Linked DNA regions of Homo sapiens. The protein of the gene in region 3 binds, or shares a complex with, the protein of the main gene of each other region. Each region holds a gene or a part of one and is shown on either strand. Other genes may lie near its edges.

Region 1 (7,031 bases), on a different chromosome or scaffold from region 3:
TAAAAATAAATAAATAAATACATGCATAAATAAATAAAGTTAAATGTATTTGGCCAGTTGTGATGGCTCACACCTGTAATCCCGGCACTTTGGGAGGCCAAGGTGGACAGGTTACTGGAGGCCAGGAGTCCAAGACCAGCCTGGCCAATGTGGCAAAACTCTGTCTCTACTAAAAATACAAAAAGTAGCCGGGCATGGCGGTGCACACCTGTGGTCCCAGGTACTCGGGAGACTGAGGCATGAGAATCACTTGAACCTAGGAGGTGGAGGTTGCAGTGAGCCAAGATCATGCCACTGCACTCCAGCCTGGGCGACACAGCAAGGCTCTGTCTCAAACACAGAAAAACTAACCCCTGCAATGGCTCCCTATGTCACTCAGAGTAAAAGCTAAAGCCTACCAATGGTCCCAAGAGGTCTCACAGTTCCCCTCTGACCACACCTTGTACAACTCTCTTCCTCATTGATCCCAGCTGCAGTAGTCTCTGCTGTCCTTTAACTCATCAAACATATTGTCACCTGCGGGCCTTTGCCAGGGTCTATGTAGCTAATTTCCTCACCTTCTCCCAAGTGTGATGCCACCTTCTTAATAGGGCCTACCTCCCTCCAAACCTGGCACTCCTGATTAGTTTATCCTGTGTTGACTATCTTTTTTTTTTTTTTTGGCATTTACGACCTTTTTTTTTTTTAACATACTATTTATTATGACTTTTTCACATCTATCTCCCTATTAGGATACACGTTCCACAAGGGCAAGGATTTTGTCTCTTTTGTCCACTGCTATATTCCCATAACTGACTGACTGAATGCTAAGCACCACAGAGGAGGAGCAGATAAAAACTCTTGTAGTAGCAGGAGGCACCAGAGGAACAGAGAGGCCAGCCCATTGTTGGGCCTCTGCCTACATCCCTCCAGTACACCCTGTACTTCTCTATCCCTGTTCATTACTTTCTAGCCACGCAGGCCTTCTTGATTCTTGCTATGGTGAGACTGTCCCATCACAAGGCTTTGCTCTAGCTGTCTCCTCGGCCTAGAACACTCTCTGTTCTTTGCCTGGTTGGATCCCTCTTGTCATTCAAGTCTCTGCTTAAATGTCATGTCTTCAGAGCAGCATTCCCTACCACACAATCTGATATACCTACTTAGTCACTTTCTTTTTTTTTTTTGAGATGGGGTCTTGCTCTGTCACTCAGACTGGAGCGCAGTGGTTCCATCATGGCTCACTGCAGCCTCAACCTCCCATGCTTAAGTCATCCTCCCGCCTCAGCCTCCCGAGTAGCTGGAACCACAGGCACACGCAACCATGTCCAGCTAATTTTTTTATTTTTGTAGAGATGGGGTTTCACCATGTTGCCCAGGCTGGTCTTGAACTCCTGAGTTCAACTGACTGTGTGGGCCTCCCAAAGTGCTGGAATTACAGGTGTAAGCCACCGTACCCATCCATTACTTTCTTAACACATCATCCTATTTTAACTCTGTATACAGCCTTTATTACTCCCTGAAATTTTGTTGGTCAATTTTTTATTTTTATTTTTTTGACACAGAATCTGGCTCTGTCACCCAGGCTGGAGTGCAGTGGCACGATCTTGGCTCACTGCAACCTCTGCCTCCCAGGCTCAAGCCATCCTCCCACCTCAGCCTCTCGAGTAGCTGGGACTACAGGCCCATGCCACCATGCCCAGCTAGTTTTTGTATTTTTTTGTAGAGACAGGGTCTTGCTTTGTTGCCCAAACTGGTCTTGAATTCCTGAACTCAAGCGATCTGCATTGCTCGGCCTCCCAAAGTGCTGCCTATGGGATTACAGGTGTGAGTCACTGTGCCAGCCTTGTCAGTTCTTTTCCACAGCTGTCCTCATCTGCCCTATCAAATTCCATACACTTACACATGCTACAAAGCAGCTCCAGACAGACTTTACTGTTCTACTTGCCACTGTATCTCCCGCACCTGGAACAGTGCCTCACATGAACAGGTGCTCAATAAAAACTTGTTGGGTGGATGGAAGCAGGTGAACTGGGTCCCATGGGTGGGCAGAATTCACTCTATCTTCCAAAAGGCATCAAGCAGTCCCTGGGGACTTTAAGATGCCAATCCACGGGGAAGAGAAAGCTCCTCTGTTTGGGGCGAGAGAGTGTATCTCACCTCTGAATGGTTTCCTCCTGTTCCTTAACCATGTGTGCCAACTGCTGAAAGATGGAGCCCAACTCAACAATTGTCGACTCAATGTTCTGCATGGTGTCTGCCCGACTCTGGATGTAGGAATCCTTCAGGAGAGGGAGAGAGCACATGAGCACCAACAGCTTCTTCAGGGTCAGACCTGCATTTTTACAACCCTCCCAGCTTGCCATTCTGCCCATGGCACACTCCAAACACTCTCTCGGGAACCACAGAGGATAATGGAGAAGCTGATTCTACCTAGTTCAGAGCCTGGGTACCTGCTCGTCAATGAGCTGCAGCTGCTGGCTGGTCCGAGAGTCCATCATGTCGATGGCGACATCCTTGGAGGCATGGGACTCTGCCCCCAGAACCACAGCACCACCGCCTGGGGGAGAAAACAGGATGTGGCACACCTTAACAGTTAAAAGCAGGTTCAAAGCCCACATGCTCTGGGTTTGAATCCCAGCTCTAGCACTTACTAGCCTTGTGACCCTGGACAGGTCATTTAACCTCTCTGAGCCTCAGTTTCCTCACCTGTAAAATGGGGGATAATAATAGTTGCTTTCTCAAAGGGTGGTTGTGAAAATTAAATGAGAGAATGTGAATAAAGTGTACGAAAAAAAATTAGAAATTATCATTATTCTGAATATAACTGAATTCACCCCAACAGTGAGAATGTGGGAGTCTAAATGTGGATCACGAATCTCAACCATCTGGTTTGGCCTCTGAGAGATAAAGCCTAGAAAATTCCTTGACCTTCCACTCTCCTACCCAACCCGTGCCTTTAGAGGATGCCATCACAACCAGAGTAAGTAACCTTACCTCCCAGGGCTCCCCGTTTTACCTGTGACTTACCCAGGTGGTTAGGGGCAAGGGGCAGGGCTGACACAGGTGCCCGGGAGAACTGCTCTCTCCGGCTCCTCTGCTGCTTCAGGTTCTGGGGTTGGGGAAAAACGCAAAGGACCTGAAGCCACTAGAAAGCAGGCATGTTAAAGAGACTCCCACCATTGGCCCCATGACCCTGTAGAACTTGTCCCTTCTTCATTTCCCTCTTGGATCTTTACTCCCATATTCCTACCCCTCCTACGCAGATTGTTCTCACCTCTGTCCTCACTTCTAAAACCGATTTGAAGTCATTGGACATAGAAGCCAGTTTCGACTAGAAGAAAAGGAGAGAGGGTCAACCAAAGAAGGCTCCACATTCTTCCTCTTTGCCTCCCTCCCTTCCTCCCCAGGTCCCACCTGCAAGGAGACCACAATGGTGTTGGAGTGGGTCTGCAGGTGCCGGCCACTCTGGCTGCCCTTGGCTCTCACGAAATCCTGGAGCTGAGCAATTTGTTTGTTGAGGCTATTGATGTCCTGGTAAAAGAGTCCAAGGAAAAACAAAGTATTAGCCAAGGAGTCCTTAGTCAGCATCTCTCACGATGGCCATCTCTGGTAGGAAGGACAAGGTGGAAGTTACTAGCCAGAGTGAGAGTATCTCAGACAGTCAGACCAGATGGGCCTGCTAGGATTTTCCAAGGTCTAGTGTTTGCTCTGGCTCAGTCCCTGCAGAGAAGAGCTACAAAGAGGCAAAATAGGCCTTCATCCATTGTAAATAACTTGTTTACTCCTCCAGCCTACTGCCCTGCTCCATTCTGTGAGGCCATGCTCTTGGCCACAGAACCCTTTCAAAGGCCAAAATCTCGGGTCTAGGGCATGACCAACAAAGCCCCCGGACAGTACTCAGGAAAAGGGAAGAGTCAAAGGCACTGTAGTTTCGAGAGGCATCAACAGAACTATTTTCATACACACAATTCCTCAATGGCTAATGTCTGTAAACCCACCACTTTGAGAGGCCAAGGCAGGCAGATCATGAGGTCAAGAGATTGAGACCATCCTGGCCAACATGGTGAAATGCCATCTCTACTAAAAATACCAAAAATTAGCTGGGTGTGGTGGCGCGCGCCTATAATCCCAGCTACTTGGGATGCTGAGGCAAAAGAATCGTTTTGAACCTGGGAGGTGGAGGTTGCAGTGAGCCTAGATCGCGCCACTGCACTCCAGCCTGGCGACAGAGTGAGACTCCGTCTTAAAAAAAAAAAAAGTTATTATTGGCCTGGCGCGGTGGCTCACGCCTGTAATCCCATCACTTTGGGAGGCTGAGGTGGGCGGATCACCTGAGGTCAGGAGTTTGAGACCAGCCTGACCAACGTGGAGAAACCCTGTCTCTACTAAAAATACAAAATTAGCCGGGCGCGGTGGCACGTGCCTGTAATCCCAGCTATTCGGGAGGCTGAGGCAGGGGAGTCACTTGAACCCAGGAGACAGAGGTTGCAGTGAGCTGAGATCGCGCCACTGTGCTCCAGCCTGAGCAACAAGAGTGAAACTCTGTCTCAAAAAATAATAATAAATAAATAAATAAATAAAATAAAAGTTATTATTACAGTCGAGTGCAGTGGCTCACACCTGTAATCCCAGCACTTTGGGAGGCCAAGGTGGGCGGCTCACTTGAGGTCAGGAGTTCGAGACCAGCCTGGCATACCCCGTCTCTACTAAAGATAAAACAATTAGCCAGTCATTGGTAGCGGGTGCCTATAGTCCCAGCTACTGGGGAGGCTGAGGCAGGAGAATCGCTTGCACCTGGGAGGTGGAGGTTGCAGTGAGCCAAGATCGCACCACTGCACTCCGGCCTGGGTGAAAGAGCAAAACTCTGCCTCAAAAAAAAAAAAAAAAAAAAAATTATCCAGGAATGAGGGCATGTCCCTGTAGTCTCTACCACTCAGGAGGCTCAGGCTGGAGGAAAGCTTGAGGCCAGGAGTTAAGGGCTGCAGTGAGCTAGGTCACACCACTACACTCCAGACTGGTCAACACAGTGAGACCCCCCTCTCTAAAAAAAGAAACTTGCTCTGGGTCCCCATGGCAATGGAAAATGACAGGAAGACAGAAGTGATCTGATTGGAATGCTGGGCTCTCCTGATGGCTAGTAGCTCACCTGTTTGATGATATATGTTAGCTCTTCAATTTCCACTGCTTTATCATCAAAGAGGGACTTGCGCTTTGCCACTACAGAGACAAACAAGAAGCCACAATGGGTGAGGTCAAGGACAAAGCTCAGGGAATATAGTCCTCAACCCTCTTTGATTTACTGCCCCACTTCTGAAAGACCCCAAGAACACTCACAGATTGTCAGCTTCTCCAGCTTGGCAAATGTGTTGCTAAGGTCTTTCCCAATGCGCCTGCAAATGACCACTAGTCAGACTGTGGGAAAGGGCAGGACGCCTTTTCCCACATAAGCTCCAGCATAACCAATCCCAGACTTCACAGCCAAGGCCACTGATTGCAAGTCTACTTTTCTTCAGACACTGTATCACCCCACCAGAAAGCTTCTCTCAACTCACTTGGCCATGAGGGTGAATTCACTGCGTTGTCGGACAGCACGCAAAGCTGGCTTATTTGTCTGGATTCCATTCTGAAAAGCAATGGCAGGAGGTGACAACTTTAGTTCTCCCTTCCCCAGTTCCAGCTTTCACTCTTCCTGAGGTGTCCACTAACCTATCTCTAGTGCTGGTGGCATCCATCAGATGATCTAGATTTATGAGTGGTAGTCGTTTAGAGTCCAGATTTGAAGAGCAGGTAGACCTGAGTTCAAATCTTGACTCACCACTTACTACTAGCTGGTGGATTTGGGGCGAGTTACTTAAAACATTCTAAATCTCTACTTTCTCTTCTATAAAATGAAGACAATCCACACATCTCCTATTGTTGCTAAGGTTAAATAACAAAAAGGCTGAAAAGTACTTCAGTCAACTACCTGGTACATAGTAAGCACTAAATAAATGGTATCTAGTATTGCCATTCTATTCCTCAAATCAGGAAATCAATAAGGATGATTGCAAAGCTCTTGGAGATCATACAGAAGAGCAGCTTTACCATGAGCTGAAAAACACTTCTTTATAACTTTTCTGTTTTTGAGACAGGGTCTCACTCTGTCTCCCAGGTTGGAATATAGTAGCATGATCATAACTTACTGCGGCCTCGACATCCTGGGCTCAAGTGATCCTCCAACTTCAGCCTCCCAAGTAGCTGGGACTACAGGGCACACCACCACACCTAGCTAATTTTTAACTTTTTGTAGAGATAGGGTCTTGCTATATTGCCCAGGCTGGTCTTGAACTCCTAGGCTCACGCAATCCTCCCACCTCAGCCTCCCAAAGTGCTGGGATTACAGGTGCCAGCCAGCATGTCCAGCCATCAGTAAAAATATTTAAAAATACAGTTACTCGGCCGGGTGCAGTGGCTCACGCCTGTAATCCCAGCACTTTGGAAAGCTGAGGCAGGCGGATCACGAGGTCAAGAGATTGAGACCAACCTGGCTAACATGGTGAAACCCCATCTCTACTAAAAATACAAAAATTTAGCCAGGTGTGGTGGCATGCACCTGTAGTCCCAGCTACTCAGCAGGCTGAGGCCGGAGAATCACTTGAACCTGGGAGGTGGAGGCTGCCGTGAGCCAAGATCCCACCACTGCACTCCAGCCTGGGTGACAGAGCGAGACTCCGTCTCAAAATAAATAAATAAATAAATAAACAAACAAACAAACAAATAAATAAATACAGTTACTTGGCCAGGTGCAGTGGCTCACACCTGTAATCCCAGCATTTTGGGAGGCCGAGGCAAGCAGATCACGAGGTCAAGAGACAGAGACCATCCTGGCGAACACAGTGAAACCCCGTCTCTACTAAAAATACAAAAATTAGCTGGGTGTCCTGGCACCGCCTGTATTCCCAGCTACTTGGGAGGCTGAGGCAGGAGAATCACTTAAACCCAGAGGTGGAGGCTGCAGTGAACCCAGATCACGTCACTGCACTCCAGCCTGGCAACAAAGAGAGACTGTCTCA
Region 2 (7,834 bases), on a different chromosome or scaffold from region 3:
GAATGATGCAGAAGCAATCAGCCTGTTGTTGGAAGGTAGGGACTGCAATAAAATTGCAGTTTCAATGCAATTTTATTCAACTTAATATAACCTCTACAACAATTCAGTGAGATGGAAATCTGGCATCAGGCATATATTTGAGGAATGGAATGGAAGAATAGAAATTGAACCAGATAAAACGCATCCTAGAAGTAACAGCAAATGCTTCAAGGAAGGCACTTACCAAAAGGCATACTATAACTTATTACATTTCATTAAGTCTGACAACCAGGGCTAAACCTGAATTAGAATATGTGCTTCTGGTATTTACCAGACTTTTCTCTATAAGGAATCCAGGCCAAACAAAATAACAGCCAAACTTTTGACATCTAATTGTAGTAAAAGCACAGGACATCCATCACTAGCTCTTCTAGTTAAACTTCCCACAAGAGAAGATGGGGAGTGGGGAACGGTTGCAAGAACAGGAGATAATACACAAAGCAATGACAACATAAAATCAAAATTGCTTAAAAGAATGTATGTTTCCTCTACGTCAGGGGGACAGTGTCCCTGAACAACACAGCCCATGAACTCACTTAAGGTGATGTGACACCTACTCACATCAATACATAGCAGAACTGCAAGTTGCATTGTCATGCGGTCCAACCCTGTGACATATGCACAAAGCTTTTCTCAAACATCTCTGAAAAGCAGTCATCACTCTGTTTAATCACTTCCAGTGACAGGGAACTCAGCACCCTATGGGACTGTTACTGTCCCTGAGGCCCATTAACTCAAAACTCAAACACATTTTCACCACTCAGGGAGAGGTGGAAGTGATCACAGGGCTCTCCAAAGGGCTTGCCAACCCAACTGTGCCTCCTGTCTCTACCATTCCCAAATCCCCCCTTTCCCTGAGCAGGACTCAAAATTAGCACAGTGTTAATAAATCAGTGGTTTCAGAGTTAGAAGGGACCCTTAAAAAGCCAATACTGTGATATTCATACCACAGTTCTACAAAAGGAATCTCAAGAAGTGCTTGGGCCAAACTGGGAGGGAGAGTGTCCTGTTTCTCTTCCTCTTATTTCAACCTAGGAAGCTCCCACTTTAATTTGTTACATATAGAGGACCAAGGTAGTTTTTTAAAAGGAGGAGGAGAAAAAAAGGACCATTTACAGGTAAATAAACTGAGGTCTTAAAACTTGCTTAATGAAATCATATAGCTAATAGTTGCAGGGTTCAGACAACAACCTCGTCTCTTGGCTCCTTCTCTGGTGCTTTCTCTACCAGATAACATCTGACCATCTACAGGGCAAAATTCAAACTCTGCAATGATACACAAAGCCCTTTAAGATCTCCGCGTCCAATTTTTATGAGAGTCCCACATTCCAGTCTCACTCAAATGTTTATTGAACCAACTTATGTCAGACTGTTACCTACCTCCACAGCTTAGCGCATACTATTCTCTTAGCCTGAGATGTCCTTCTGCACTGGAACCAACTAATCCTCTTTCAAGATTTGTTTTAGGCATCATCGCCTCTATAAAGCCTTTTCTGGTCCTCAGGTAGAACTGACCACATTCTTTTTGTGCCCTACACAACACCTGCAAGGCTTTATGGCACTTGTTTTATGTCTATGTCCGTCTACTCCACCACTGCTTTTACATCATATTACTCTAACACGAGGCTGGTCAGAAGGTAGGTGCTTCATAGACGGTCATCAATAGGGCGAGTGTATTCATCTGGTCCAATCCCCTTTCTAATGTTTAAGTATCCTCTGCTAACTGTCATTAATGCATGCATGACTACATTCATTCAAAAATATCTGAGTGTCTATACAGTGCCAAGTGTATGCCAAGCAGAGAAGGATTTACTGTGAAATTAATGAGGCTTAAGCTTTAGGGTCCCTCTCTTCAATCTTCCAAAGCTCTGAATCTTTCTTGGTGATTTTTATTTCTTGAAGAGGGCAGACAGAACTATATAAGCTGTAGGCCCCACAAAACCTAGATACCTCCTTGGTGTCACGAACACAAAAGGGAACAAGACAAACAGCTCTCCCCTTATGGAGTTTTCTGTTTAATGGGAAAGACAGCCATTTGTTCATTCACTCATTCAACAAACATTTACTAAGCAATGCTATGAGTCATGCATTCTGAGATGAAAACAACACTGTCCCTGCCCTTAAGGAAAAGGTTCCTGTTCCCAGGGAGATGAAGGGACACCTGCTCTGATCAGGGAACAGAAAGTAGTTGAGGTGACTGTAACACTGTGTTTGCGAAAGATTACCCTAAACCCGTCTCAAGAGGAACTGAGTCCTACTTATTGCAGAGACAAAGGGAAGAAAGAGTTCGGCTGAATACAGTTTTTAATCTCAACTAGGGGTGGGAGGCAGACAAGTAAATAGAACAGGCAAATATGGTGTGGTCAGTGCTGCAACAGGAAGCGAAGGACTGTCAGGAGGTTTCCCCTGAGTGCAAGTCTGTAGTGACGGCGAACTCATGACCTCACAAAGCCGCCCATGCACTTTCCAGATAGAGATTTCTGAGGATCTCCTTTCTTGTCCCCCAATCCCTGTCGCCGCAGGAGAAATCTGTTCCCCAATATGCGTCCCCCTTCCTCAAAATAAGGCTGTTCCTTCCCCCAAAAAGCTGTAGGGTCTCTGAGGCCAACTCTTCTGTCCCCCTTAGAGCCACCCCCTTCACACAATGCTTACGGGACGGGGTCTGGTTTGGGGCCCGGGGTCCCTGTCGCAGGACTGCCCCCTCCTCAACCCGCCGTTTCCATAGCAACCAGCTCACCACTTCGCGGGCCCGGCTGGAGAAGTCGCCCTTGGGCCGGGGGCTCCGGCGGAACAGCTCGTCCCGGCTGCCATCGACCCCGCCGCCCACCGCCACTCCCAGCGCCTTGTTCCGCGTCTTCACGGTCTTGACGCTGGCCCGGAATAGCAGCGTGATGTCCACCGCCATAGCGACCCGCACCCTCAGCCCCACACTAGGCCCGCCCACGTAAGCAGCCGGCGACCGCGGCGCGAACCCGGCCGCTGAAGGACTGGTCCTGCCCCACACGCCTCCCCCCGGCAACGGCGACGCGAGAAGAAAGGTTCCGGCCTGCGCCCTGCTACCGCGGCGGGAGGAAAAAGGTTCCGGCCTCAGCCGGCGCACCTGGCGGAGGAGGAACCTCGCGACGCGCTCTCGGGCATCGGTTTCTCCCAGCAAAGCTTGGAGGGTTTAGCTGCGCGGAGAGCTCAGCGAGCTCTTCTGTGTCTGTTTGGGGCGTGTGGGCTCCGGGAGCGTGAGGACCGGGAAGCTAGGAGGCTCCTTCCCTTCTGGCGGCTCCCTCACTGAGACCGGGCGGTTTGGTTGCGGGGGAAGTGGAGACGAGCCACCCTTGACCTTTGACTGCAAGAACTCACCTTGAGCAGGATAGAGGCACGTGGACGGTGACCCTCGGGATGCAATAAATGCTGAGACAGATCAGGTGTGCAAGGCACAGAGCTAGAGGCCAGAGGCCTTTCTTCTCCAACCTTCAGTCACCTCTTTTTAAAGTGAAGCCAGCATCCTCCTCGGGGTTTACTGTGAAAATTAAGTGAGCTGACGCGTGCTGTGTTTTGATGTTGCTTGGCTCCTAGTAAGTGGCCAATAAATGGTAGTAATCGTTAATAATGTTATTATTATAATCACTGTTATTTGTGGTAAAGGAAGAGGCTTTAGAGAAAAGGCGTCACCTGTGCAGAGATTTGAAGGATGAATAGGAAGTTTAGATGGAGACAAAGGTGAAAGAGTGGCCCTAATGCCGCTGGATTCTCTTCATCCTTCATGCATAGTTTTTAATTGTACCGTCTTGAGCCATAGCTATTAAAATTGACAACTCAATCAATGAGTTTCTTCTGCATTTTAGGTTCATGTTCTGTTTTGTGTTGTTTTTTGAGACGGGGGTCTACTATGTTGCCCAGGCTGGATTGCAGTGGCTAGTCAGAGGCGCCATCCTAGCTCACTACAGCTGGAACGCCAGGGCTCAAACGATCCTCCCGGACTCAGCCTCCTGAGTAGCTGGGACTATAGGCACGTGCAACCGTGCCTGGCCTATGGTTCAGTTTTAATTCAAAATCTCATTGATTTCTTCAAGATTTCTTTTTTCATAAAGAGGAAGCACAAGTAGAATATGTATTAAAACAGCAGTTTTAATGGTCATCAAGATAAAATTTTCACAATACTAAGATGTTATTTGCCTTTTCGCTCTGATTTTCTTATGAGTTGCATACAGTTGAGTTTGCTGGAGACTGTGATATTGCAACGGAGTAAATGCAGAACAGCTGTTTTCTATTAAGCCAGACTCCAAAAAAAGACTTTCAAAAACATCAAGTTTTTGTTTTGATTTCTCATATAGTAAATGTCGATAATGTCAATATAAACCAAAATTGTTTAGAGCCCTTAATAATTTTTAAGTGTGCAAAAGAGTTGAGACCAAAAGTTTGAGAACCACTGTGTTAAAAAAATAAAGTTTATCAGAAATAGATGTCAAGAAAGTATATATTTACCAGAAAGGAGGAAGGAAAAGATTTTTTTTTTCTTTGAGGCGGAGTCTTGCTCTGTCGCCCAGGCTGGAGCAAGCTCCGCCTCCCGGGTTCACGCCATTCTCCTGCCTCAGTCTCCCGAGTAGCTGGGACTACAGGCGCCCACCGCCACGCCTGGCTAATTCTTTTGTATTTTTAGTAGAGATGGGGTTTCACCGTGTTAGCCAGGATGGTCTCGATCTCCTGACCTCGTGATCCGCCTGCCTCAGCCTCCCAAAATGCTGGGATTACAGGCGTGAGCCACCGCGCCCGGCCAGGAAAAGATTATTTAAACCCAAACTGTAGCCACTTCTTGCAGTTTAAGGAAAATAAATTTCCATACAGCTTTCTTCCACCTACTGAGGAAAAGAGAAAGAAATTACAAAATCTCTGCCAATGATTCTATCTTGCATAAATGGCCCTTTGTTTAATCCAGACATTAATCAGTTTTTGGCCATGCAAAGTTAAGCCTGGGGTAGAGTAGAAGGAAAGAGAGATTGCCCTGCATAATAAAGTGAGGGGGATTGAATTGGGGGGAAGAAAAGAGAAGCCAGAACCCAGGGAGGGGGCCGGGAAAGTACAAAGTAGGTAACTGGGAAGGATCTTTGAGTGGGAGGGAGGCTGAACTACACCAAGCCTTCAGTGAGTGGTGCCTTGTGTAAACCGTGTGTTTGGTGCAGTTGGATATTTTGGGTAGAAGGGTAGGGACAAAGATCTAAGTTTTCTGTCTGGATTTGCAAGAGCAGAGAAGATTGTGGTGGATATAAGACCCAAGTGAGCTCAAAACATCAGGCTGTAAATCCACAAGTGACCACAAGTACATAAAATTCCTAAATAAGTCACAAAGATCTTGAGGAGGCTGCTGAACTTTCCACAGACCATGGGATATGGGGTTGTGCTTTTTACATTTTGTGTTTACTCTTTAATTTAAAAGAGCAAAGTGACTTCAGTTGACAGTTGACTAATATTAAGCCCCATAAAGCTGAGAGGGGATGTGGGTTAAAAGGATGTGCAGAAATGTTGTGAGAGTATACTACTGCAACTCCAGGGCTCAAACAATCCTCCCGGCTCAGCCTCCTGAGTATCTGGGACTATAGGCGCGTGCCACCATGCCTGGCCTGTTGGAGGTAGCACACAACTGCCCAGTTGGATGTAGTATACAAATTTTGTTTTCTTTATGCATTCAGCAAACATTGAGTGGGCCAGACACTGTTCTGAAAAATACGCAGTCGACTTTTGAACAGCACAGGCTTGAACTGCATGCGGCCACTAATACTCGGACTTCCTTCTGCCTCTGCCATCCCTAAGACAGCAAGACCCACCCCTCCTGCTCCTCAGCCTACTCGATGTGATGATGGTGAGTATGAAGACCTTTACTTTATGATGATCCACTTCCATTTAATGGATAGTAAATATATTTTCTCTTCCTATGATTTTCTTAATACCATTTTCTTTTCTCTAGCTTACTTTATTGAAAGAATACAGTATCTAATACATATGACATGCAAAATATGTGTTAACGGACTGTTTATGTTATTGATAAGGATTCTGGTCAACAGTAGGCTATTATTAGTTAAGATGTTAGGGAGTCAGAAGTTATACACAAATTTCCAACTGTGAGGGGTGGAGGAGTCATCAAGGATCAACTGTATTGGCACCCCTAAATATAGCTCACTACAGCAGCAACACCTATGCAAGGAGACTAGATGTAGGCTGCCAGTGAAAACCAACGTGTAATTTCTGGGCAGCAAATTTAAGAGCTAATGTATGATTCACGATGCTCTTTTCCCTCTGCTATGACAACCCTTAATGTTCCAATGTTCCATCAGCCTGAGTCCTTAAGTAAAGATGACATGGAGCATAGCCAACCAAGGACATTGTATTAGTCAGAGTTCTCTAGAGGGACAGAACTAATAGGATAGGTGTATATATAAAGGGGAGCTTATTAAGGAGTATTGACTCACATGATCACAAGGTGAGGTCCCACAATAGGCCATCTGCAAGCTGAGGAGCAAGGAGAGACAGTCCAAGTCCCAAAGCTGAAGAACTTGGAGTCTGATGTTCCAGGGCAGGAAGCATCCAGCACGGGAGAAAGATGTAGGCCAGAAGACTAAGCCAGTCTAGTCTTTCCATGTTCTTCTGCCTGCTTTTCTTCTGGCCATGCTGGCAGCTGATTAGATTGTACCCACCTAGATTGAGAGTGGGTCTGCCTTTCCCAGTTCACTGACTCAAACGTTAATCTCCTTTGGCAACACCCTCACAGACACACCCAGGAACAATACTTTGCATCCTTCAGTCAAGTTGACACTCAATATTAACCATCACAGACATGTACTAAGATTGAGAATTGTCCACAGATTTGTGGGTGTTTGTTAACTGCAGCATAATTAGCCTGTCCTGATTGATGACAACCCATATCTAGGTATCTACCAAAACAGGAATATTAGATGTATTCTCCACTCACCATCGTAACAGTATTATTCCTCAGTGAATGAAGCATGGAGAGGAAAGAACAGTTGTGCCTAAACCTAACCAATGGAAAAGACCAGGCTGGCAGGGACAGAGTGGCAGAAACCTTGGAAGACTGTGACCATGGCAGGGTAGAATTTATAACACAAGAGGAAAGGCCTTCAAAAACATATACCTTCACGTTAGGAGGTAAACTCAATGAAATTCATTGAAAACCATTTTTCCCCCCTCAGGGACTCTGGAAAGGACCCTGACTCTAGGGGTGGGAAGCTCAAAGAAGAAGCTTTTGTTCCCAAGAGGGAACCTAGATAAAGAATTCAGGGTGGATTTCTCTTGTTTTTTTTTTTCTTTTTTTTTTCTTTCTTTCTTTTTTTTTATTTTTTTATTTTTGAGATGGAGTTTTGCTCTTGTTGCCCAGGCTAGAGTGCAATGGCGTGATCTCAGCTCACTGCAACCTCCACCTTCTGGGTTCAAGCAATTCTCCTTCTTCAGCCTCCCAAGTAGCTAGGATTACAGACGTCCTCCACCATGCCCAGCTAATTTTTTGGGGGGTGTGTATTTTTAGTAGAGATGGGGTTTCACCGTGTTGGCCAGGCTGGCCTCGAACTCCTGACCTCAGGTGATCCACCCACCTCGGCCTCCCAAAGTGCTGGAATTACAGGCATGAGCCACTGAACTCGGCCCAAGGTGGGTTTCTTCCGGCAGCTCCCCCAGAAGTTTAGCTTTGAAACAGATGTGCAAAAAAAAGCGAGGGAAAGGCAGGAAGCAAACAGGAGGTTGTTGTGGTCCAGCCCTTTGAGGTGTGGCCTTTGTCCCCCCACCGCCCATTGAAGTA
Region 3 (4,138 bases):
TTTTGGAACTGTTTAGGATACAGCAGTGAACCAGTGATCCCTGTCCTCATGGAACTTCCCTTCTGGTGTAGACAATCACCATAATAAATAAGTGAATTATTTAGAACATAATAAGCATTAAGGAAAAAAGAGCAGGGGAAGAGGGACTAAGCATGCTGGAGGAGGTAGAGTTGCAGTTGAAAGCAGGTGGAGGAAGCTTCATTCAGAAGGTAACATCTGAACAAGAGACTTAAAGGTGTTTGCTGGGAATGAGCATTCTAGGTAGAAGGAAAAGTGAATGCAAAGGCTTAAGCTGAGAGTGTGCTTTGTCTAGGGAGGGGTAAGGAGACCAGTGTGGATGGGCAGAGGAAGGGAACAGTAAGAGGAAGTAAGATCAGAGAGGTCATGGGAGAAGGAGAGATCATAGAGGGCTAGCCAGGCACCGTGGCTCACGCCTGTAATCCCAGCACTTTGGAGGCTGAGGTGGGAGGATTGGTTGAGCCCAGGAGTTTGAGACCAGCCTGGGCAATATAGTGAGACCCCCCCCCCTTTTTTTTTTTTCCTTTGAGACAGGGTCTCACTCTGTTGCCCAGGCTGGAGTACAGTGGTGCCATCTCTGCTCACTGCAACCTCCGCCTCCTGGGTTCAAGCCATTCTCTTGCTTCAGCCTCCCAAGTAGCTGGGACTACAGGCGCCCACCACTGCACCAAGCTAATTTCTGTACTTTTAGTAGAGATGGGGTTTCACCACGTTGGCCAGGCTGGTCTTGACCTCCTGACCTCAGGTGATCCACCTGCCTCAGCCTCCCAAAGTGCTGGGATCACAGGCATGAGCCACCGTGCCCGGCCAACCCTGTCTCTATTAAAAATAAAAATAGGCCAGGTGCAGTGGCTCACGCCTGTAATGGAGGCCGAGGCAGGTGGATCACAAGGTCAAGAGATCAAGACCATCCTGGCCAACATGGTGAAACCCCATCTCTACTAAAAATACAAAAATTAGCCGTGCGTGGTGGCGCGTGCCTGTAGTCCCAGCTACTCGGGAGGCTGAGGCAAGAGAATTGCTTGAACCCGGGAGGCCAAGGTTGCAGTGAGCCGAGATTGTGCCACTGCACTCCAGCCTGGGCAACAAGAGTGAAACTCTGTCTCAAAAAACAAATAATAAATAAATAAATAAATAAATAAATAAATAAATAAATAAAAAAGATCATGGAGGACCACATAGGCCTGATAAGGGCTTTGGCTTTTAGTCTAAGAGAAATGGGGGAGCCTGTCAAGGTCATCACAAGGTGGTTAAGGTGGCAGATCCCGCATAAGAGCTCATGCTATTTGCTCACTGTACTATGGGGTTGCCGAGGCACCGACCGGGCAGGGATCCTCCCAGGGGCACTCAGCCTATATTCTTCATCTTTAGCATGGGGTCCTGTCCCAGCAATTCGTGGAGCTCATCAACAAGTGCAATTCAATGCAGTCCGAATACCGGGAGAAGAACGTGGAGCGGATTCGGAGGCAGCTGAAGATCAGTGAGTTGTGCATGCCCAGCCTGGCCCGCAGGGGCAGGTAATCCCAACCCAACCCTGAGCCTGGCCTTTTCCTTCACAGCCAATGCTGGGATGGTGTCTGATGAGGAGTTGGAGCAGATGCTGGACAGTGGGCAAAGCGAGGTGTTTGTGTCCAATGTGAGTGGCCACAGCCAGCCCCTCTCTGCTGTGCCTCCCATCCCCTCTGAGTCCTGTCCGTTTCTCGACCTCCTGGGCTCAGGTGATCCTCCTGCCTCAGCCTCCCGAGTAGCTGGGACTATAGGTGCAAGCCACTGCACCCCGCTTGCTGTGGCCCTTTCTGATTAAGGGCACCCTGAGGCCTCTAAGGGAATTAATTAGCCTGCCTGGAGTCACCCATCAGATTCCAGGCTGAGGGCTCCCCAGAAGCTCAACAGGAGTTTCTGACCTGCTGTCGGTCTCCCTGTGAACAGTTGCCCCACTCCTGTCCACCCCCCAGATCCTGAAGGACACGCAGGTGACTCGACAGGCCTTAAATGAGATCTCGGCCCGGCACAGTGAGATCCAGCAGCTTGAACGCAGTATTCGTGAGCTGCACGACATATTCACTTTTCTGGCTACCGAAGTGGAGATGCAGGTGGGTGCCCCGCGCAGCCCCAGACGTGAGACCAGGCTCAGTCCAAACTGCCAGCCTCCCGCCACCCTTAGATTCTCTCCCTGAGGCTTTTGTGTCTTCCAGGTTTGGCCATGCCCCCAGATTGGTGCTTATTCCTATCCTTAGCTGTACCCCGAGAATGGCACCTGCCTCTGCTGCTACACAGATGCCCACTCCCTTCTGCATAGCACCCTGCCCCCTCTCCAAAACTTGAGCCTGCCCAGGTCTGGCCCCAGCCCTCACTCCCCCTCCACTAACAGCATCCACCCTTATACCTCTCAGAGGTCCAGTCAGAGTTGCCCTAGAGGGGCTGCCTCCTAACATCTGTACAAGGCTGGGGTGGGGGCGGCGTTCCCCTGGCCCTGGTTGTGAGTTGAGTTGAGCTTCCAGCCCTGTCCTGGAGGAGCTGGCCTCAGTCATGCTACAGCCAATGCCCTTTTGCAGCTGAGACTTACAGGAAAGAGATCTCATTCAGTAGGAGTACTGAGACCTGAGGCTGGTGGTGCCAGGAGGAGGCAGGGATAGGGAGGGCTTTGCAGCAGCTGTAGATAGGCCTGGAAGAATGGGTAAATTCAGACAGATTTGTGAAGGCACAGTTCACCATCTGTGAAAGGTATGAGCCATTTGAGGCCCTTAGCTCCAAGCTACCACTGCAGATAGAGGTTGTATGGGATAAGTGAGCAGGGGACAAGGGACTACATGATAGAAGGGGCCTGGAAGCCATCCCCAAGGAGTCTGAACTTTTGTCAGATCAAGTCTTGCCCTTGTCTTTGTTAGTGCAATTTTTTTTTCCTGCCAGGAATGTTCTTCAGTCATCTGGGGTGGGGTGGGCAAAGGCATCCTTACCTCCCTGAACCACCCCATCCTCTGAGCAGGGGGAGATGATCAATCGGATTGAGAAGAACATCCTGAGCTCAGCGGACTACGTGGAACGTGGGCAGGAGCACGTCAAGACGGCCCTGGAGAACCAGAAGAAGGCGAGGAAGGTGAGCCTCCCAGGCCCGGCCACTGCCCCAGGCACCCTGTGTGACTTCCCTGACCCCCTCCTCTCCCACAGAAGAAAGTCTTGATTGCCATCTGTGTGTCCATCACCGTCGTCCTCCTAGCAGTCATCATTGGCGTCACAGTGGTTGGATAATGTCGCACATTGTTGGTGAGATGTTGTGGGCTGCCCCCTGGCCTGCCCCAGCCCTGGCCCCAGCCCTCCCTCCTCCCTCAGACCCTGTTCTCCCTCCTTTCCTTACAGGCACTAGGAGCACCAGGAACCCAGGGCCTGGCCTTCTCTCCCAGCAGCCTGGGGGGCAGGGCAGAGCCTCCAGTCGGACCCCTTCCTCACACTGGCCCCTATGCAGAAGGGCAGACAGTTCTTCTGGGGTTGGCAGCTGCTCATTCATGATGGCCTCCTCCTTCAGGCCTCAATGCCTGGGGGAGGCCTGCACTGTCCTGATTGGCCGGGACACACGGTTTTGTAAAAAATTAAAAAACAAAAAAAGAGCATAGAAAGCCCTGTGCACGTGTGTTCCTGGAAGGGCTGGCCCAAGGCTTCCGGGCATCCAACCTCCTTACCTCCTGGACGTCCCCAGGGCCAGGTCTGGCCCTGGCTGCTCAGGTCAAACTGCCAGGGGTGCTGTGCCCACAGCAGGCTGGTTCTGCCTTTCTGCACCCCCATAGGAATGGGTGGGCAGGGAGGGGTAACACCGGCATCTAGCTCCTGGCTCAGTACTGTCCCCGGGAAAGGACCACTGTGAGTATCTGTCTTGGAAATGATGAGGCTGACCAGGCCAGGCTGGGACGCAGGTGAGATGGGGGTTTGGGTGGCATCAGTGGGCCTTCTTGTGGCCCAGAGGAAGAGGCACCATGAAAAAATGCCTAATTGAGGCTGTCACTTTGGATGCAGTGGATAGGGATGGTCTGGTTTCAGCAGGGATGACATTGGAGTGGGATGTTAAGCTGGGGAAGAGGTTGCCAGTCAGAAAGCACAGGAGGCCGGGCCCTGTGACCAACAAAAG
Region 4 (7,031 bases), on a different chromosome or scaffold from region 3:
GCCCCAAGAACACCGGGACCCTCTCAACACCCCAGAAGCCACCAGCATTTGTGTTTCCTTCCCACTGTTAGCGGGGGGTATGCTGTCGCCACACCAGAGCATAAAAGCCCTGGGCTCAGAGGCCAAGTTGTCGCCTTGCTCCCTCTCTCTCCAAGGCCTCTCCCACAGCACACGCTGAGAGGAAGCCCCTGGCTGGTTCCGAGCCCAGATGTTCAGGTAAGCTGCAAACTCAAGGAGTGACCTTGGGGTCACCTGCTTGCTTTCCTTTTGCTTCTGCCTATTTGGTGCACTGAAAAAACAGTGGTCCAAAATTATAATTTCTAGGGGTGATCATGGTATTGTAGTTATGGGGTTGCTTCTGCTTTTTCCCCAAAGAGTCCCTTATCTTTTAGAGAGATGTACTGAGATATTTATGGATGATGTCTGGGATTTGCTTCAAAATAATCCAGATGGGGGATGGGCTGAGGGTAGAACTGAAACGAGACTGGCTGGGGTAATGGACTCAGGGCTCAGGGGATTCAGGATACCATGCTTTCTCCTTTTGTCCACGTGTGCAATTTTCCAAAAGCGTTTCAAGGAGTAAACGCCCTTTTTCTGTTGTCTTATACTGAAGGACCCTGGAGAGGGCTGATACTCTTCTCCATCACAGAGGAGACACTCTGGGAAAACTATTGGAGGAAACCAGATGGTCTCAAGCAGTCTCTCCTGTAGCCTCTGATTCACATCTTTTAAAAGGAACTCATAGGAAAAATAACGTTGGGGAGTATAATTGTAAACTGAGGTCCTAGCAGTCCTACCAGCAGCTGATTCGCCAAACATCTCTTGGAGCAACCATTCCCAAACTTGCCTGGCCATATGGGTCCCCAGAGCCCTCACTGAAAATCAGACTCCAGGCCCCTCACCCAGCCCTGCCGACACCCTCTCTAGGAGAGGGGCTGGGACCTCTGCCTTTCACATGAACACATGGGAATGCTCCCCCTGAGGAAACATCGATGGGGGTGTGGGGTCTTCTAGTAAACAGAAATACGGGCCGGGCGTGGCATCTCACGCCTATAATCCCAGCACTTTGGGAGGCTGAGGCAGGCGGATCACCTGAGGTTGGGAGTTCAAGACCAGCCTGACCAACATGGAGAAACCCCGTCTCTACTAAAAATACAAAATTAGCCGGGTGTGGTGGTGCAGGCCGGTAATCCCAGCTACTTGGGAGGCTAAGGCAGGAGAATCGCTTGAAACCAGGAGGCAGAGGTTGCGGTGAGCTGAGATCGCACCATTGCACTCCAACCTGGGCAACAAGAGCGAAACTCCATCTCAAAAAAAAAAAAGAGAAATAGGAGCAGCACATCCCACACTGGATAAGACCATGGTGTCAAGTCATCTCATGAGGGAGAAGCCACCCAAGTCAGTGAACATCGTGTGGGCTGTGGTGGAGGAGCCCAGAGTGGAGGTGCCAGGGCAAGGGCCCTAGAGCAGCGTCTCTGGGAGAAGCTTCCTACTCCAGGCCCAGCTTTACCTAGAGACTGCATGGCCTCCTCGCTCTGCTGGACCTGCTGGGCCATCATCCTGCTGATCCCCATGAGGCTCTCAGTGATGGTACTGGATGTCTGGGCCAGGCTCTCTTTGGTGGTTTTCCTAAAAGTTCAGAGGAAGAGAAAGGGGAGGAATGTCAACAAAAGCCTCCCTGCAAGAAGGCCCCACATCCAAATGAGATCTCATGTTTTACCTATCCAATTAGTATACATATTTTAAATGATCACATTCAATGCTGGAAAGGGTGTGCTGAGACCCACGCCCCTGTGGACTGCTAGTAGGAACATAAACCAGTGCTGCCTTCTGTAAAGCAATTTGCCAATTGAAGAGCCTTGGTAATGTTCATTCCTTTGACTCAATCATCTCATCCCTGGAAATCCCTCCAAAGGAAACATCCAAAATGTGGATAAAGCCTTATGTTCTAAGACATGCCCTGGTGTATTACTTACACTACTTAAACACTAGAAATGCAAACACACACAGGGAATTGTATTAACATACAATCTACATACTATGTACTGTTAGAATTAGGCTTAAAAAGCTTTTTTTTTTTTTTTAATGAACAACTTTTGTGCTGAAACAGCAGAATATGAAATTTTATGTATGGTACAATTTTGACTTTGTAAGAAATGTAGAAATAAAAATGAGGGAGAGAATATACCAAAATGTTCATGAGTAATAAGATTTGATATTTTCGGCCGGGCATGGTGGCTCACGCCTATAATCCTAGCACTTTGGGAGGCTGGGGTGGGTGGATCACCAGAAGTCAGGAGTTCAAGACCAGCCTGGCCAACGTGGTTAAACCCCGTCTCTACTAAAAATACAAAAAATTAGCTGGGTGCAGTGGCACGCAACTGTAATCCCAGATACTTTGGAGGCTGAGGCAGGAGAATCACTTGAACCCAGGAGGCGGAGGTTGCGGTGAGCCAAGAGGGCACCACTGCACTCCAGCCTGGGCTACAAGAGTGAGACTTCATCTCAGAAAAAAAAAAAAATTCAATATTTTAATTTTGTAATTCATACTTTATTTTACCAATTTACTACAAATAAGTATGCATTTTTTTCAAACTTAAAAAAATTACTTATGTAATTAAATTAAGCACCAAGCTGAAAACAAGAGGGGGTTTCCTACACCTTGCCAATTGTTATCTATTATTATCGGAGCCCAGAAAAATAAAAGAATAGGTACCTTTGCCTTAAGAGATCTCCTCCCTGAAGAAGTTCTGCTTTCTCTAGATTGTCGATTGCAATTTTGCAGGTGAGATTAGCTTTCCTCCATGAGGCCTGATTGCTGGAATTGGAAGGTTCACGTGTGAGTGTGTCCACTCCACCAAGCCATAAGTCAGTTCAATTCACAGCACTTCCCCCCAACAAAGGCACACGGGAGAAGGCCACCAGGCACGGCCTTCAGAGCCCATCCCACCTCCTGCCACTTCCGCCTCCTGGTTCCCCAGCAACTGTTCTTGCTCAGGTCCTGATACCCCTTGACCGGACCCTGGAGGTCGCCACGGGGAGGCTCTGTTGCTGTCACTCTGCCCCCGTCAGCCCAAGGGGCTGTGAACATGGCACTCCTCTGTGCACAGCTCCACAATGGCTGGACTTCAGGGAGGCATCCAAACTTCCCAGCTGGTCACACAAGGCCCCTCTTCAGTCCAGTTGCCTCTAAGGCTGTACTGCTATGGCCTGTGTATTAATTGGTACCATCCCCGGAGAACCATGACTTACTCATCTCCAGTATCTTGAACAACCATTTCTGGCCCTTCAGCTGCTGAGTTAATATACTTTGTAGGAAATAAAAAATCGTGGCCAGGCACAGTGGTTCACACCTGTAATCATAGCACTTTAGGAGGCCGAGGTGGGGGGATCACTTGAGCCCAGGAGTTCAAGACCAGCCTGGGCAACATGGAGAAACCCCGTCTCTACTAAAAATACAAAAAATTAGCCAGGCATGGTGGTGGCGCATGCCTGTGGTTCCAGCTACCCAGGAGGCGGAGGAGCGAAGATCACCTGAGCCTGGGAAGTGGAGGTTGCAGTGAGCCGTGATAGTACCACTATACTCCAGCCTGGGTGACAGAGTAAGACCTTCTCTCAAGAAAAAAAAAAAAAAACACACACACACACACAAAAAGCCAATCTTTCAAAATATTTCTTCAAGGTTTGTTGTTCTTTCCATACTACAGACCAATCATGAATGACACAAACATGATGGATTAGCAGAGCCCTGACTGACACGGCGGATCTACAGTCTTCACCTGCGCTAACTTGTGGGTGATAACGGAAAGTTGGTGAACAGCTTCCTGGAGTTAGAAATGTGACAGTTGACCGGGCGTGGTGGCTCACATCTGTAATCCCAACACTTTGAGAGGCCGAGGCGGGTGGGTCACTTGAGGTCAGGAGTTCGAGACCAGCCTGGCCAACATGTTAAAACCCTGTCTCTACTAAAAATACAAAAATTAGCTGGACATGATGGCGAGTGCCTGTAATCCCAGCTACTCGGGAGTCTGAGGCAGGAAAATCACTTGAATCTAGGAGGCAGAGGTTGCAGTGAGCCAAGATCACGCCACTGCACTCCAGCCTGGGCAATGAGAGTAAGACTCCGTCTCAAAAAAAAAAAGAAATGTTGACAGTTGTTGATAGACTATAAAAAAGCTAACTGCGTCTCTCTAAGAATCAAACTCATACTTCAGAACTCTTATGTAGCCAGCTCAAACCAATTGTGCTAATCTCTGGAAATACTCAAAAATCAAAACACAGAGTACATGAACTGACAGGGTGGTTTTCTAATAGCACCTTTATGCTGAAGGTCTTAATGAGCACCTGCTCCGCCATTTCACACCTGCCACTTTAAAGAATCCATTACATTTTGAAACAGTTTGCAAGGGGGTTCTGCAGGACCCTGGGATCCAGAGATGAATGAGGGGCAGTACTTCTCCTCAACCACCTCACATTCATTTGGGAAAAAGACAAGCAAACAGATACTCACTGTATGGTGTGACAAGCATGATGACCCAAGCAAGCACAACTACTGCTTCAACTGCCAAAGTTGGTTTTTTTTGTTTTTTTTGTTTTTTTTTTGAGACAGGGTCGGCTGGGCACGGTGCCTCACGCCTGTAATCCCAGCACTTTGGGAGGCTGAGACCGGCGGATCATGAGGGTCAGGTGATCGAGACCGTCCTGGCTAACACGGAGAAACCCCATCTCTACTAAAAATATAAAAAATGAGCCAGGCGTGGTGGCGGGTGCCTGTAGTCCCAGCTACTCGGAGAGGCTGAGGCAGGAGAATGGCGTGAACCCGGGAGGTGGAGCTTGCAGTGAGCCGAGATTGCGCCACTGCACTCCAGCCTGGGTGACAGAGTGAGACTCTGTCTCAAAAAAAAAAAAAAACAAAAGAAAAGAGGCAGGGTCTCGTTCTGTCTCCTAGGCCAGGTGCAGTCACATGATCACGGCTCACTGCAGCCTTGACCTCCCGAGCCCACTGCCCTCCTGCCTTGGCCTCCCAAGTAGTTGAGACTACAGGCACACATCAGCATGCCCCCAGCTAATTTTTTTTTTTTTTAATAGATGAGGTTTTGCTTTGTTGCCCAGGATGGTCTTAAACTCCTGGGCTCAAGCAGTCCTCCTGCCTCGGCCCCCGAAGTGCTGGGATTATAGGTGTGAGCTACTGCACATAGCCCCAAAGTATAAATTGACAGCTTTCTCTGCTCTGGCCTGTAATGCTACATTGTGGATGGCCATTCCCAGCTTTAAACCCATGCTAAGCTGAGTGTGTCTGGCATAACTTACCATACTTTATACAAGGGCTCCTCTGTACTCAGTGTTTATAATCTGAGTAGGCTTGGTGGCTCAGGAAAGCAAAAGCCATCATAACATAAAGTATTCGTGAAATAGCCAAGCCCTGGATCACTGCCCACCACTCATACAGCCCTCCCTGCTTACACTGGCCTCCCTGTGCCTGTGTTTTTGCCAGTCGGTGTCTTCCTGACAGCTGACTGTTACATACACAGCTGCTTGCAGGGAAGATGATGCTGGCAAATTGCTCAAATCAGAAGCAAAGCCACAAATACAGATCTGGCAGAGGCAGACCAGTGAACAAGAGACAAAGAGAAAACCCATGGGAATGACAACTTAGCAGGGGTTTCAAAAGAGAATGATTTAGCCAGGCACGGTGGAGTGTGCTGTAGTCCCAACTACTTGGGAAGCTGAGGTGAGAGGATCGCTTGAGCCCAGGAGTTCCTGAGGCTGCAGTAAGCTATGACTGTACTCCAGACTGGGCAACAGAGAAGGACCTCATTTCCAAAATTTTTTAATTTTTTAAAAATAAAAATATTTTTTTTTTGTTTTTAAGGTGGAGTCTCACTCTGTCACCCAGGCTGGAGTGCAGCAATCTCGGCTCACTGCAACCTCTGCCTCCCGGGCTCAAGCGATTCTCCTGCCTCAGCCTCCCGAGTAGCTGGGATTACAGGTGTGTGCCACCACACCCGGCTAATTTTTGTATTTTTAGTAGAGAGGGGTTTCACCATGTTGGTCAAGCTGGTCTCGAACTCCTGACCTCATGATCTGCCCACCTCGGCCTCCCAAAGCGCTGGGATTCCAGGCGTGAGCCGCCGCACTGGGCCAAAAATGTATTTTTAAAAAAGAGAGAGAATGATCTGAATACCTCAAATATGTTTGGAAAAACCCTCTTTATGATTGGTACAAAAGTCAAATGTGAAGGGAAAGATACTGTTTCATGTTGTCTGACAATTTCATTGGAAAAGTTAAACCTCTCCCAATTCAATAACAAGAAATGGCATATAACTGTAACTATATAATCAAGGATTAGCACACACCTGCAATTACAACCTCGATTTTGGTTTTAATTTTTGACCTCAATTTTGTTTAATTTACGGTTTTTCTTGCATTTTATTTTATTTTATTTTTAGACAGCATCCCACTCAAAACCTTCTAAATTTTGGTCCACCTTCAGCAGGTTTTCTTTCTGTAGATTTTTTCTGGTACCAATTATCCTTAGATAAAAAATGACCCTGTATTACAAAAGCAATCATATTTTTTGATTAAAAATATACAATACAGTATAATGTTAAATATGCTTTTGTAAACTATGTTCAGCTCCACCTGCTCAGATAGGCCCTATTTATCCCTTCCCCACTCGCCCCCACTTGACTATTGCTGACTGAGAGAGAACATTCCACCAGTGTGTAACTGATGCAATTGGCTGGGCGTGGTTGCTCACACCTGTAATCCCAGCACTTTGGGAAGCCAAGGTGGGTGAATCACATGAGGCCAGTGTTAGAGACCAGCCTGGCCAACACAGCGAAACTCTGTCTCTAGTAAAAATACAAAAATTAGCCAGGCGTGATGGTGGGCGCCTGTAATCCCAGCTACTCAGGAGGCTGAGGCAGAAGAATTGCTTGAACTCGGGAGGCAGAGGTCACAGTGAGCCAAGATCAGGCCACTGCACTCCAGCCTGGGCAATAGAGCGAGACACCGTCTCTCAAAAAAAA

What was found.
Region 1: STX4 (region 3) and STX5 share a complex: the UniProt entries of both Homo sapiens proteins name them as parts of the SNARE complex.
Region 2: STX4 (region 3) and STX18 share a complex: the UniProt entries of both Homo sapiens proteins name them as parts of the SNARE complex.
Region 4: STX4 (region 3) and BNIP1 share a complex: the UniProt entries of both Homo sapiens proteins name them as parts of the SNARE complex.

What each region holds. Positions count from the first base shown.
Region 1 is NC_000011.10:62,822,030-62,829,060, forward strand, and holds part of STX5 (syntaxin-5), read right to left. Parts: intron 5,603-7,031; coding exon 5,532-5,602; intron 5,370-5,531; coding exon 5,314-5,369; intron 5,197-5,313; coding exon 5,126-5,196; intron 3,511-5,125; coding exon 3,394-3,510; intron 3,311-3,393; coding exon 3,254-3,310; intron 3,089-3,253; coding exon 3,007-3,088; intron 2,537-3,006; coding exon 2,430-2,536; intron 2,259-2,429; coding exon 2,137-2,258; intron 1-2,136. UniProt on the Homo sapiens protein: Mediates endoplasmic reticulum to Golgi transport.
Region 2 is NC_000004.12:4,539,021-4,546,854, forward strand, and holds the start of STX18 (syntaxin-18), read right to left. Parts: upstream 3,029-7,834; 5' UTR 2,945-3,028; coding exon 2,777-2,944; intron 1-2,776. UniProt on the Homo sapiens protein: Syntaxin that may be involved in targeting and fusion of Golgi-derived retrograde transport vesicles with the ER.
Region 3 is NC_000016.10:31,036,537-31,040,674, forward strand, and holds the end of STX4 (syntaxin-4), read left to right. Parts: intron 1-1,389; coding exon 1,390-1,498; intron 1,499-1,577; coding exon 1,578-1,654; exon of another isoform or gene 1,655-1,657; intron 1,658-1,973; coding exon 1,974-2,111; intron 2,112-3,004; coding exon 3,005-3,115; intron 3,116-3,186; coding exon 3,187-3,267; 3' UTR 3,268-3,282; intron 3,283-3,375; 3' UTR 3,376-3,628; downstream 3,629-4,138. UniProt on the Homo sapiens protein: Plasma membrane t-SNARE that mediates docking of transport vesicles. Necessary for the translocation of SLC2A4 from intracellular vesicles to the plasma membrane.
Region 4 is NC_000005.10:173,154,531-173,161,561, reverse strand, and holds part of BNIP1 (vesicle transport protein SEC20), read right to left. Parts: intron 2,819-7,031; coding exon 2,717-2,818; intron 1,630-2,716; coding exon 1,511-1,629; intron 1-1,510. UniProt on the Homo sapiens protein: As part of a SNARE complex may be involved in endoplasmic reticulum membranes fusion and be required for the maintenance of endoplasmic reticulum organization. Also plays a role in apoptosis.